2 separate regions of the Homo sapiens genome follow, and region 1 is linked to region 2. A link means that fine-mapping ties the variant in region 2 to the expression of a gene that starts in the linked region. Tissue or cell type: blood mononuclear cells. Region 2 holds a variant in brackets; the other region holds the start of a gene. All regions are shown on one strand. Distances are between the middles of the regions.

Region 1 (5,116 bases), 22 kb after region 2:
AGGCGGAGGTTGCAGTGAGCCCAGCTGGAGCCACTGCACTCCAGCCTGGGCAATGGAGCGAGACACCGTCTCAAAAAATATATATATAAATAAAAATAAGAAATTAAGAATGACTTCCCTAGTGGTCTAGTGGTTAAAAAAAAAAATAAAAAAGACTACCGTTTTAAACAGAGAGCACATCCAAGCATTGTTTGCACCATCAAAAGTAAAGAAAACACAAATAAGCCGGGCGCGGTGGCTCACGCCTGTAATCCCAGCACTTTGGGAGGCCGAGGCGGGTGGATCATGAGGTCAGGAGATCGAGACCATCCTGGCTAACAAGGTGAAACCCCGTCTCTACTAAAAATACAAAAAATTAGCCGGGCGCGGTGGCAGGCGCCTGTAGTCCCAGCTACTCGGGAGGCTGAGGCAGGAGAATGGCGTGAACCCGGGAAGCGGAGCTTGCAGTGAGCCGAGATTGCGCCACTGCAGTCCGCAGTCCGGCCTGGGCGACAGAGCGAGACTCCGTCTCAAAAAAAAAAAAAAAAAAAAAAAAAAGAAAACACAAATAAGCCAGGAACAGTGGCTCATGCCTGTAATCCCAGCACTTTGGGAGGCTGAGGTGGGAGGATCGCTTGAGCCCAGGAGTTCTGCAGGAGACTGCAGTGAGCTATGATTGCATCACTGCACTCCAGCCTGCATACCAGAGTGAGACCCTGTCTCAAACAAACAAACAAAAACAAGAAAGGAAGGAAGGAAGGGGAAGAAAGAAAAAAAGAGAAAGAGAAAGGAAAGAAGGAAGGAAGGAAAGAAAGAAAGAAAGAGAAAGAAGAAAGAGAAAGAAGGGGTGGGAAGGGGAGGGGAGGGAGGGAGGAAGGAAGGACGGAAGAAAGGAAGAAAGCAAGCTAAAGTGAAAAGTAGGCTCCCTCCCTGCGAGCCCAAGCCCCTCACCCCAGCTGGAGAACCCGCTGTGAATACTTTCTGGTAGATCCAGCCAGACATCCTGCCTCACGCCAGGCACAAGTGTGTACAGACGACAGGACACAGCACATGTGCACACACACACTCCCAGGAAAGAAAGTGGTCCTCGGGGCACAGTGGAGAAGGCAGGCTGGGATCAGCCTGCACGGGTTCTGGCCCTGGCTCCACCGCGCCAGCTGCGTGACTCTGGACAAAGGCTTCTTTGGCAAGCCTCAGTTTCGCCGAACCTCCCTGTGGGGCTGCCAGCAGCCAGGTGGAGACTCAGGGGCCGCCTTCCCCTGCTGGGCTGAGGCTGGCTCTCCTGTCCTTGCCACACGGCCCCTTTCACCGCCAGTGGAAACCTGCCTCAGGCTGCCCTGTCCCGGGCCCCACCGACTCCACAGAGACGCCGGGCCTCGCCCACTGTTCTGGCAGTAGGCCTTCATGGGCAGGGCTTGCTGTGTGCCAGGCAAGCTGGGCGGCTGCTTCCTGTACACCACCTCCCCTGATATCCTCGCCCTGCCTGAGCCCATTCTGGGACAGCCTCAAGTCCTGTCTCTCCTGCCATCCAGCCCAGGGCACGCTGCTGGTATCCCGTAGCCCTGGCCCCTGGCAGGCTGGCCAGAGGGGCTCCAGGCCCACGCCAGGCCATGGCCTCTGGCAGCTGCCCTGGCCAGCAGCGCGTTCACAGCAGGAAGCCCCCGCTTCTCCTACCTGGGCTCCGGCTTCTTTGCAAGGGGTAGGGGAAGCAGACAGGTCCCAGAGGCTGCTCGGCTCACAGTAAGACCCGTCTAGGCTGCAACGCACCTGAGCCCCGCACTGGGAATCGAGGGCCAGGGGGCCTCTAACCGGCTTTGGGCAAAATAAACTTCCCCGATCTGGACTGTTCTCCACTACGAAACGGGGTGTCTCGGAGATCAAGAGCCCGAGGTCTCCCAGATATTCTGAGACCCTCAAGGGAGTTCCGCCTGGGATTGCCCATCCGCGGAATGGGCAGGAGAGGGAGCGTCGGCCACTCCTGGGACCGCGCTTCCTGCAGGAGAAGCCACGCGGCCAAGGGCTGGGCGTGGCAGGGTTGTCCAAGTTTTCCCTCCCGAACCCCCAGCCGGAGGCGGCCCGCGCTGGAACCCCGGCCGCGGAGGCCCAGACTCTGCTGCCCGCCGCCCCCTGACCCGGTAGCCGAGCCCCAAGTGCTGCCCCGGGTCGCCCCCTCGGGTGTCCAGTCTGCGGCTCCGGCCTCAGTTTCCCTCTGTCCCGCGGCGCTGCCAAGAGTCGCAGCCATGCGGGCCCCCACTTCCCGCTGCCCCCTCCGCGTCCCGTCCTCACTCACCAGCGGCGAGGGCACGCTCCGGGAAGGGCACTGCCTGGCAGGAGTTAGCCAGGCCGCTGTCCCCGCATCCGCCCCGCCCCTCCCAGCCGCCAGGCCCCGCCCCTCTCAGTCGCCCGGCCCCGCCCCGCCCCGCCTGGCAGCCCGGGCACTGGGCCCACTCGCGTCCCCGCGGGACCGGGAGCTCACTCCTCAAAGCCACCTCTCCCGCGGGACGCGCTTCTGCCTCCCCCCGGCCGCGAGCAAGTCTCTCGGCTCCTCCTCCTCCCCATGGTGACCGGTGACGGCCGCCCGGCCAGACCCAACATCTAAAACGTTGCCGTGTGTCCAACGGCGTGTCGTTTGTCGTCTCTTCTAGCCTCACTTTTCCCATCTATAAAATGCAGCAACAAGACCGATCTCCGAGTGGGGAATTACCTCTCCTGAGGCCAAGGCCCTGAGCGTCCTGCTGCCCAGCAGCCTTGGCCCCATTTCCGGAGCACCCCAGTTCCTTGAGCTGTTGACGCAGGGCACGGAGGCAGCGCGCTGCACTCTTAGTCCTGGCCCAGCCACTTTCTGACTGGCTCTCTGGGCCTCCATCTCCTCATCTGTAAAATGGGCACAAAGTCGTGGGACTGATGAGGCCGCAACGCGGTGATGCAGGCAGGACACCCCTCAGATGCTCGGCGCTCAGTGAGGGGAGGCTGCCATCATCACAGCCCAGAGGTGGCCTCCAGCTGCCCAGGTCCACTCCCATGCAGGGTGTGTCCAGCCCCAGGCCCTTGGCACTATGGCTGTCTTGCTGCAGTTCAAGGCTGTCCCAGCTCCCTCCAGACAACTCAGCCTGGCAACGCCCCATCAGCCTGAACCAGCCACGTTGGCCCAAACTGATCCTGCAGGGTCCAAGGAGAACTGTGGCTACTTCTACCCAGACACAGAAGCCAGGAGCCTCCTTGGGGACCAGCCAGGCTGCAGTATGGCTTTCCTAGGACCTGGCATTTTTGCCTTTGTGAGCCTCTTCCTCTATTAAAAAACAAACATACATAAATCTATTTTTTACTGTGTTGGCCTGAAGACAAGGATAACCCAGGCTTGGTTCCATTCTTCATTCATCTTTTTCTTCTGGGTTTCTTTTTTTTTTTTTTTGAGACGGAGTTTCGCTCTTGTCTCCTAGGCTAGAGTACAATGGCACAATCTCGGCTCACTGCAACCTCTGCCTCCTGGGTTCAAGTGATTCTCTCCTCCCTCAGCCTCCCGGTAGCTGGGATTACAGGCGCCTGCCACCATGCCCGGCTAATTTTTGTATTTTTAGTAGAGATGGGGTTTCACCATGTTGGCCAGGCTAGTCTCGAACTCCTGACCTGAAGTGATCCACTGCCTCGGCCTCCTAAAGTGCTAGGATTACAGGCGTGAGCCACCGCACCTGGCAGCTTTGTTTTTTTTTTTTTTTTTCTTTTTTAAAATTCCTTCTGGCCAGGCACGGTGGCTCATGCCTGTAATCCCAGCACTTTGGGAGGCCGAGGTGGGTGGATCACTAGGTCAGGAGTTCGAGACCAGCCTGGCCAACATGGTGAAACCCCATCTCTACTAAAAATACAAAAATTAGCTGGGCATGGTGGTGTGTGCCTGTAATCCCAGCTACTTGGAAGGCTAAGGCAGGAGAATCTCTTGAACCCAGGAGGCAGAGGTTGCAGTGAGCTGAGACGGTGCCACTGCACTCCAGCTTGGTGACAGAGCGAGACTCCGTCTCAAAAAAAAAAAAAAAAAATCCCTTCTTAGCCGGGCGTGGTGGCTCACACCTGTAATCCCAGCACTTTGTGAGGCCGAGGCCGGTGGATCACCTGAGGTCAGCAGTTCGCCACCAGCCTAACCAACATGGTGAAACCCAGTCTCTACTAAAAATACAAAAATTAGCTGGGCATGGTGGCAGGCGCCTGTAATCCCAGCTACTCAGGAGGCTGACACAGGAGAATCGCTTGAACCGGGAGGTGGAGGTTTCAGTGAGCCAAGATCACGCCATTGCACTCCAGCTTGGGTGACACAGTGAGACTCTTTCTCAAAAAAACAAAACAAAAAATAAAATAAAATAAAAATAAGACACACATGTGGCTGGTTGCAGTGGCTCACGCCTGTAATCCTAGCACTTCGGGAGGCCGAGGCAGGCAGATCACTTCAGGTCAGGAGTTGGAGACCAACCTGGCCAACACGGTGAAACCCCATCTCTACTAAAAATACAAAAATTAGCTGGGCGTTGTGGCGGGCACCTTTAATCCCAGCTACTCGGGAGGCTGAAGCATGAGAATCACTTTAACCCGGGAGGTGGAGGCTGCAGTGAGTCGTGATCACACCTCTGCACTCCAGCCTGGGTGATAAAGCAAAACTCAATTTAAAAAAAAAAAAAAAAACCACACACGTGTACACATTACAACAATAATACCAGGTGTGCCCATTCCCCAGTTATGACCAGAACATTACGAGAGTCCTAGGAGCGCCCTGGTGACCTCCCCAGCGATTCCTCCCCTCCCCAGAGATCACCTTTACTTTGACTTGGGTTGATCACGCCCTTGCTTTCCTTTAGGGTTTTATGAATCCCACCCGGGTGTGTTTCCCTGAGTACTATGTGTGCAGAGAGGCAGCACACCCCCAGCTGGGGCAGAACAGGCACCATGGCCAGGCCAGAAGACTCCCGGGAAGATAAACTCAGCTGAGCGCCTGGGGTACAGGCTGGGCCCGGCCTCTGTGGGCACTGACAAGAGGCCCCTCTGGGGCAGGCAGAGGGCATGGTTGTGGGTGGGGCTCCCCTGTGAGGACGTTGAGCACAGCTGTGGCATGCGCATTCAGCAGGAAATGGTCAGGGGCATGAGCTGTTCT
Region 2 (5,190 bases):
AGGCCAGGCATAGTGGTTCATGCCTGTAATCCCAGCACTTTGGGAGGCCAAACCAGGCAGATCGCCTGAGATCGGGAGTTCAACACCAGCCTGGCCAGCATGGTGAAAGCCCGTCTCTACTAAAAATACAAAAAAAAAAAAAAAAAAAATTAGTAGGGCATGGTGGCTGGCGCCTGTAATCACAGCTACTCGGGAGGCCAAGGAGGAAGAAGAATCACTTGAAACCTGGGAGGCAGAGCCTGCAGTGAACTGAGATCGGGCCACTGCACTCCAGCCTGGGCTACAGAGCAAGACTCCTTAAAAAAAAATAAAATAAATTCATCTTTGAAAGTTAAAAATAGGAATAGGCCATGGAAATGCTGGCAGTGAGTGGGTAAAGGGCCCCCTGGGCAGAAGCGTTGGCCACCACTGGTCCCCATCCCACCCCTGTCCTCTGGGCACCAAGGGGTCCTGTTACCAACCTTGCATGTCATGGGGCTGCTCCGCTTACCTGGATACGATGCTCATCCAGTCCTGGAAACCGACACTAGCCAGGCCTGTGCATGCCAGCCCTCCCCACAGCAGGGAGCCTTTGCTGGCCAGGAACATGCTGGGCACCCACAACAGGCACCCGGGCTGCCAGTAGGGGCCCCTCCCAGGAGGCTGCAGGTGTGGCTGTTGAGTTAAGGAAAGCCAGGCCGGCAGGTCCAGGCGGGACACCTTGCAGAAGCAGGCACAGGTGAGGACCCAGAGATGCAGAGCAGATTCCACCTCAGCCTTCACAGGAGCCCCTCCCTGAGGCTCCCAGACACTCCCCTTGGCTGCCCAAACCTGGTCTAGCCAAGAACAGGCAGGCTGCTCCACTCTGCCCCCTCCACCGGGCCTGAGGGCTTTCCTCCCTGCTGGCCTCTGCCCCAGCTGGGCAGCCCAGGGGCTCTTGCTGAGACGTGAGTCTTGTGGTGACCTGGCCAGGGCCTAAGGTCCCTCCACCTCCTCTGGGGCAGAGGCCTCACGGAGGCCCTTGGTGTGCCTGTCTGAGATTGGTGGCCCCAGCCTCATCCTCTTGTTTTGCATGTGAGAGGAAAGAACTAGCACATAATAAACACCCAAATTATGCCATTTAATTTTAATGACAAATGTGAGGTGGACGGTGTGGTCCAGTCCTGCGGATGGGGAACCAGGGGTCACAAGGGTACAGGTTGCGCCCCTCCCTCAGCAGATTGGAGGGAGCGGGGTCTGAACCCGGGCTGTCCAGCATCATGACTCGAACCCAGGACTTGCCTCTGCCTCATTAGCTTCAAAACAGGGAAGGGAGTCCCTGAGCCAGGGCTAGTGCTGGAGTCCCGCTTGGACACTTGGGAGCCGGGATCACCCAGCTCGGGCTCTCCCCACAGGGTCTACACGGACGTGCAGCAGGTGGCCAGCAGCCTCACCCACCCGCGCTTCACCCTCACCCAGAGTGAGGCGGACGCCGACATCCTCTTCAACTTCTCACACTTCAAGGACTACAGGTGAGGGCACCTCTGGCCGCAGGGGCCCTCCCAGTCAGGGCTTCTAGGCACTGCCGGCCTCCCCTTGAGCTGGCGCACCTGCCTCCGCCCTGCAGGAAACTCAGCCAGGAGAGGCCAGGCGTGCTGCTGAACCAGTTCCCCTGCGAGAACCTGCTGACTGTCAAGGACTGCCTGGCCTCCATCGCGCGCCGGGCAGGTGGCCCCGAGGGCCCACCCTGGCTGCCCCGAACCTTCAACCTGCGCACTGAGCTGCCCCAGTTTGTCAGCTACTTCCAGCAGCGGGAAAGGTGGTAAGTCCCAGACACGGCATCGGTGTGCTCCATGGCCCTTTTCCCCGGCCCAGCGTCTGTGTCCGCCTGCTCCTCCATGAGCACCCACTGTGGAAACCGTGGTGCAGGAGCCGAGCTGTGGGCCCCGAACGTCACGGCCGTCTTCACGGACCGCAGGACCTCTCCAGGTTTTTGCTGGGGCTGTCCTCTCCACCGCAGCGCAGCTGCCTGGCCTCTGGCAAACCCCTCCTTGTTTCCCATGCCCCTGCCTCTGACAGCTCTCTGGTGCCCCCTCAGCTCCCAAGGAGAAGTGGGCTGCCCTCTTCTGCCTCTGGGTCCTGGGGTGGCACCATCTGGGAACACAGGCCCCAGGCGCCCCCCAGACAGCCCTTCTGCTCCCCAGGGGCGAGGACAACCACTGGATCTGCAAGCCCTGGAACCTGGCGCGCAGCCTGGACACCCACGTCACCAAGAGCCTGCACAGCATCATCCGGCACCGAGAGAGCACCCCCAAGGTGGGCCCCGCAGACCAGGAGCCCCAGGGCTCAGGGCCCTGGCTGGACAGTGAGAGGTGGGGCTAAGGGGACCGAGCATCATGGTCCTTATGGACAGGTCCAGGCTGGGCAGGGTGGCTTACACCTGTAATCTCAGCACTCTGGGAAGTGGAGGAGGATCACTTGAGCCCAGAAGTTTGGAACCAACCTGAGCAACATAGGGAGACCTCGTTTCTACAAGGGAAAAAACTTTAAAAATTATCTGGGCATGTTGGCACACACCTGTAGTCCCAGCTTCTCAGGAGGCTAAGGCAGGAGGATCACTTGAGCCCGGGAGGTTGAGGCTGCAGTGAGCTGTGATCGCGTCACTGCACTCCGCCCTGGGCGACAGAGCAAGACCCAGTCTTTAAAAAAAGAACTGTCCTGGGTGCGTC[T/C]AATCGCAAAGTTCCTACCACATAGTGTGCCAGGTATGGCTGCCCAGCAGGGTGAGGTGGCTGAGCCTGGACAAGGAGCCTCTCAGAGCCGTGGTAAAGATTCATAGTGAGGGGACATCCAGAAGCAGTATTGGGATTGCAGGACACAGGATCTGCCTGGACTGTGTACATAGTCAGAGGCTGGCGGGAAATGCATCATGAGGACGATTGTCGTGGAGACTTCAGGCCATGGGATGGGGGTGGATGGAATTATGGGTGAGAATTTATATTTCATTTCAATTAAAAATGGATATAAAGACTTTGCTTCAGGGTGCGGTGGCTCACACCTGTAATCCCAGCACTTTGGGAGGCCAAGGTGGGCGGATCACCTGAGGTCAAGAGTTCGAAACCAGCCTGGCCAACATGGAGAAACCCCTTCTCTACTAAAAATACAGAAATTAGCTGGGGGTGGTGGCGGGCACCTGTAATCCCAGCTACTCAGGAGGCTGAGGCAGGAGAATCGCTTGAACCCGGGAGGCAGAGGTTGCAGTGAGCCAACATTGTGCCACCGCACTCCAGCTTGGGCAACAGAACAAAACTCTGTCTCAAAAAAAAAAAAAAGACTTTGCAGCAACTTAGGCAGGTTTGAAAAGGCAGAAGGAGGAGTAAAGTGCAGCCATGTCTGTGCCCCCTGCGTGGCTTTGTGTGCTCGGGAGCCCCAGGGGGCTCTGTCCTGGCCACCAGCGAGCTTGCACCTGTGTCCTCCAGGTTGTGTCCAAGTACATCGAAAGTCCCGTGTTGTTCCTTCGAGAAGACGTGGGAAAGGTCAAGTTCGACATCCGCTACATCGTGCTGCTGCGGTCAGTGAGGCCCCTACGGTTGTTCGTGTATGATGTGTTCTGGCTGCGGTTCTCCAACCGGTAAGTGGAGGGCCGGCTGGGTCCAGGGTCGGGGAGCTGGGTGACCGGGTGGAGGTAGCGGGTGGGTGATGGGCCCTTTTTGGAATCAGAAAATGTTGTTGGAAGGCACCCTCCATCACTCACCCAGCTAGCGGCCCTTGGAGCCCATCTCCCTTGGTGTTAATTGGCGGTGACTTGCCCTGCCCACCTCAGAGTTCTGGTGTTGCCCACAGTAATGGATGTGAACATTCTTTGTAAAATGGGCACCAACATGAGAACCAGGTGCCATTTTTATGGACCTGCAGAGGCTTCACAGCTAGCACCTCACTCACCTCCACCCCAGCTCAGTGGGGCTGTGGGGCTCCCCCAGCCACACAGACAAGGGAACAGGCTCCCGCCTGAGCAGCAGGTGGTCCTGCCCTGAGCCCTGAACCCCTAGTTGGGAAGGCTGAGTGGGTGGCACCTCCCTCGCAGGGACAAGGCCGCTCAAGAACCCATATGTGTCTGCACACTTGTCTTCCAGGGCCTTTGCACTCAACGACCTGGATGACTACGAGAAGCACTTCACGGTCATGAACTATGACCCGGATGTGGTGCTGAAGCAGGTAGGGCCTGAGGGAGGTGCAGAGCAGGTTCACACAGAGGCCAGGGCACACCCGACCCCACCCCGCCCACACTGCCTCCTAGGAGGACTGGCACACAGGCCAGTCCCAGGAGCCGCCTCCTGAGTTCCTGCTATGGAAGGCGATTGTTAGCGCTGCCATCATGAGCCAGGCTGGGTTCTGTGTTGTCTCAGGTAGGTCTCCCCACGGCACAGAGGGCCACTGGCTGTGTTTGAGATAATGTGGACACAGAGGGGGATGGGTCCAGCAGCAGGTTGAGACAGTGTGTTCCCAGCCGGGGCTTACTCCTCACCACCACTTCAACCGGAAAAGCAGACCACCCTGTGAGTGCCAGGGCAGGCGGGGGCGGGGAGGCCCCACCTGGTCCGGCTGGCTGCTGGCCCGTGACCCTGCCCGGGTCTAGGACCTCCTGTCCTCCCTGGTGCACAGTGTTGAGCGGTGCCCCATGCAGTGGGCACTCAGTGAATGGCAGCTGCACCATCTGAGCACCTGGAGCTCAGGGGCATCTGGACAAAGGCCCTTCCAAGGTGGGGGCGAGAAACCAGAGCTGGCCAGCCAGTGTACGTGGACAGGTAGGCACAGCCTGCACAGAAGCAGGAGGCCAGCTCTGGGTACAGGAAGGAAGAAAGGAAGTCCTGGAAGGCCTCTGTGGCCTGGCTGGTTAATGAGTGTTTCAGATGCACAGAACACCTACCCCACCCTGCCTGTCGCCAGCCTTGCAGGTGCCGCGGACTCCCCATGCAGCCAGCCCCAACGCTCCCCGACCCCTGAACGTGTGGCTGTCATTCCCAGGCATGTCTTTGGTTCTTTTCAGCAGGAGTATGTTCCTGACCATTCAAGCTGCTGTTTTGCTTACTTAGGTTTTTTGTTTTGTTTTGTTTTTTTGAGAGACAATGTCTCACGCTGTCACCCAGGCTGGAGTGCGGAGGCATGATCTGGGCTCACTGCAACCTCAATCTCCTGGGCCCAAGCCATCCTTCTGCCTCAGCCCCCTAAAGTAGC

The links. PIP is the estimated chance that this variant, and not a neighbour inherited with it, causes the effect.
Region 1: it holds the start of TSPO, and the variant in region 2 is fine-mapped to the expression of TSPO in blood mononuclear cells (TOPMed, PIP above 0.99).

The regions. Positions count from the first base shown.
Region 1 is chr22:43,148,758-43,153,873 of GRCh38, reverse strand. It overlaps TSPO (translocator protein), which reads right to left and starts at 2,315. Exons shown (of 4, transcript NM_000714.6): 1 at 2,270-2,315. RefSeq lists an enhancer at 1,623-1,722 and a silencer at 2,344-2,563.
Region 2 is chr22:43,170,799-43,175,988 of GRCh38, reverse strand. TTLL12 (tubulin tyrosine ligase like 12) reads left to right here. Exons shown (of 14, transcript NM_015140.4): 7 at 1,374-1,490; 8 at 1,586-1,780; 9 at 2,163-2,274; 10 at 3,435-3,586; 11 at 4,089-4,170. Among named protein-coding and RNA genes, the nearest start is that of TTLL12, 14 kb to the left of the region's middle. The variant T/C (reference allele first, on the strand shown) is at 2,688.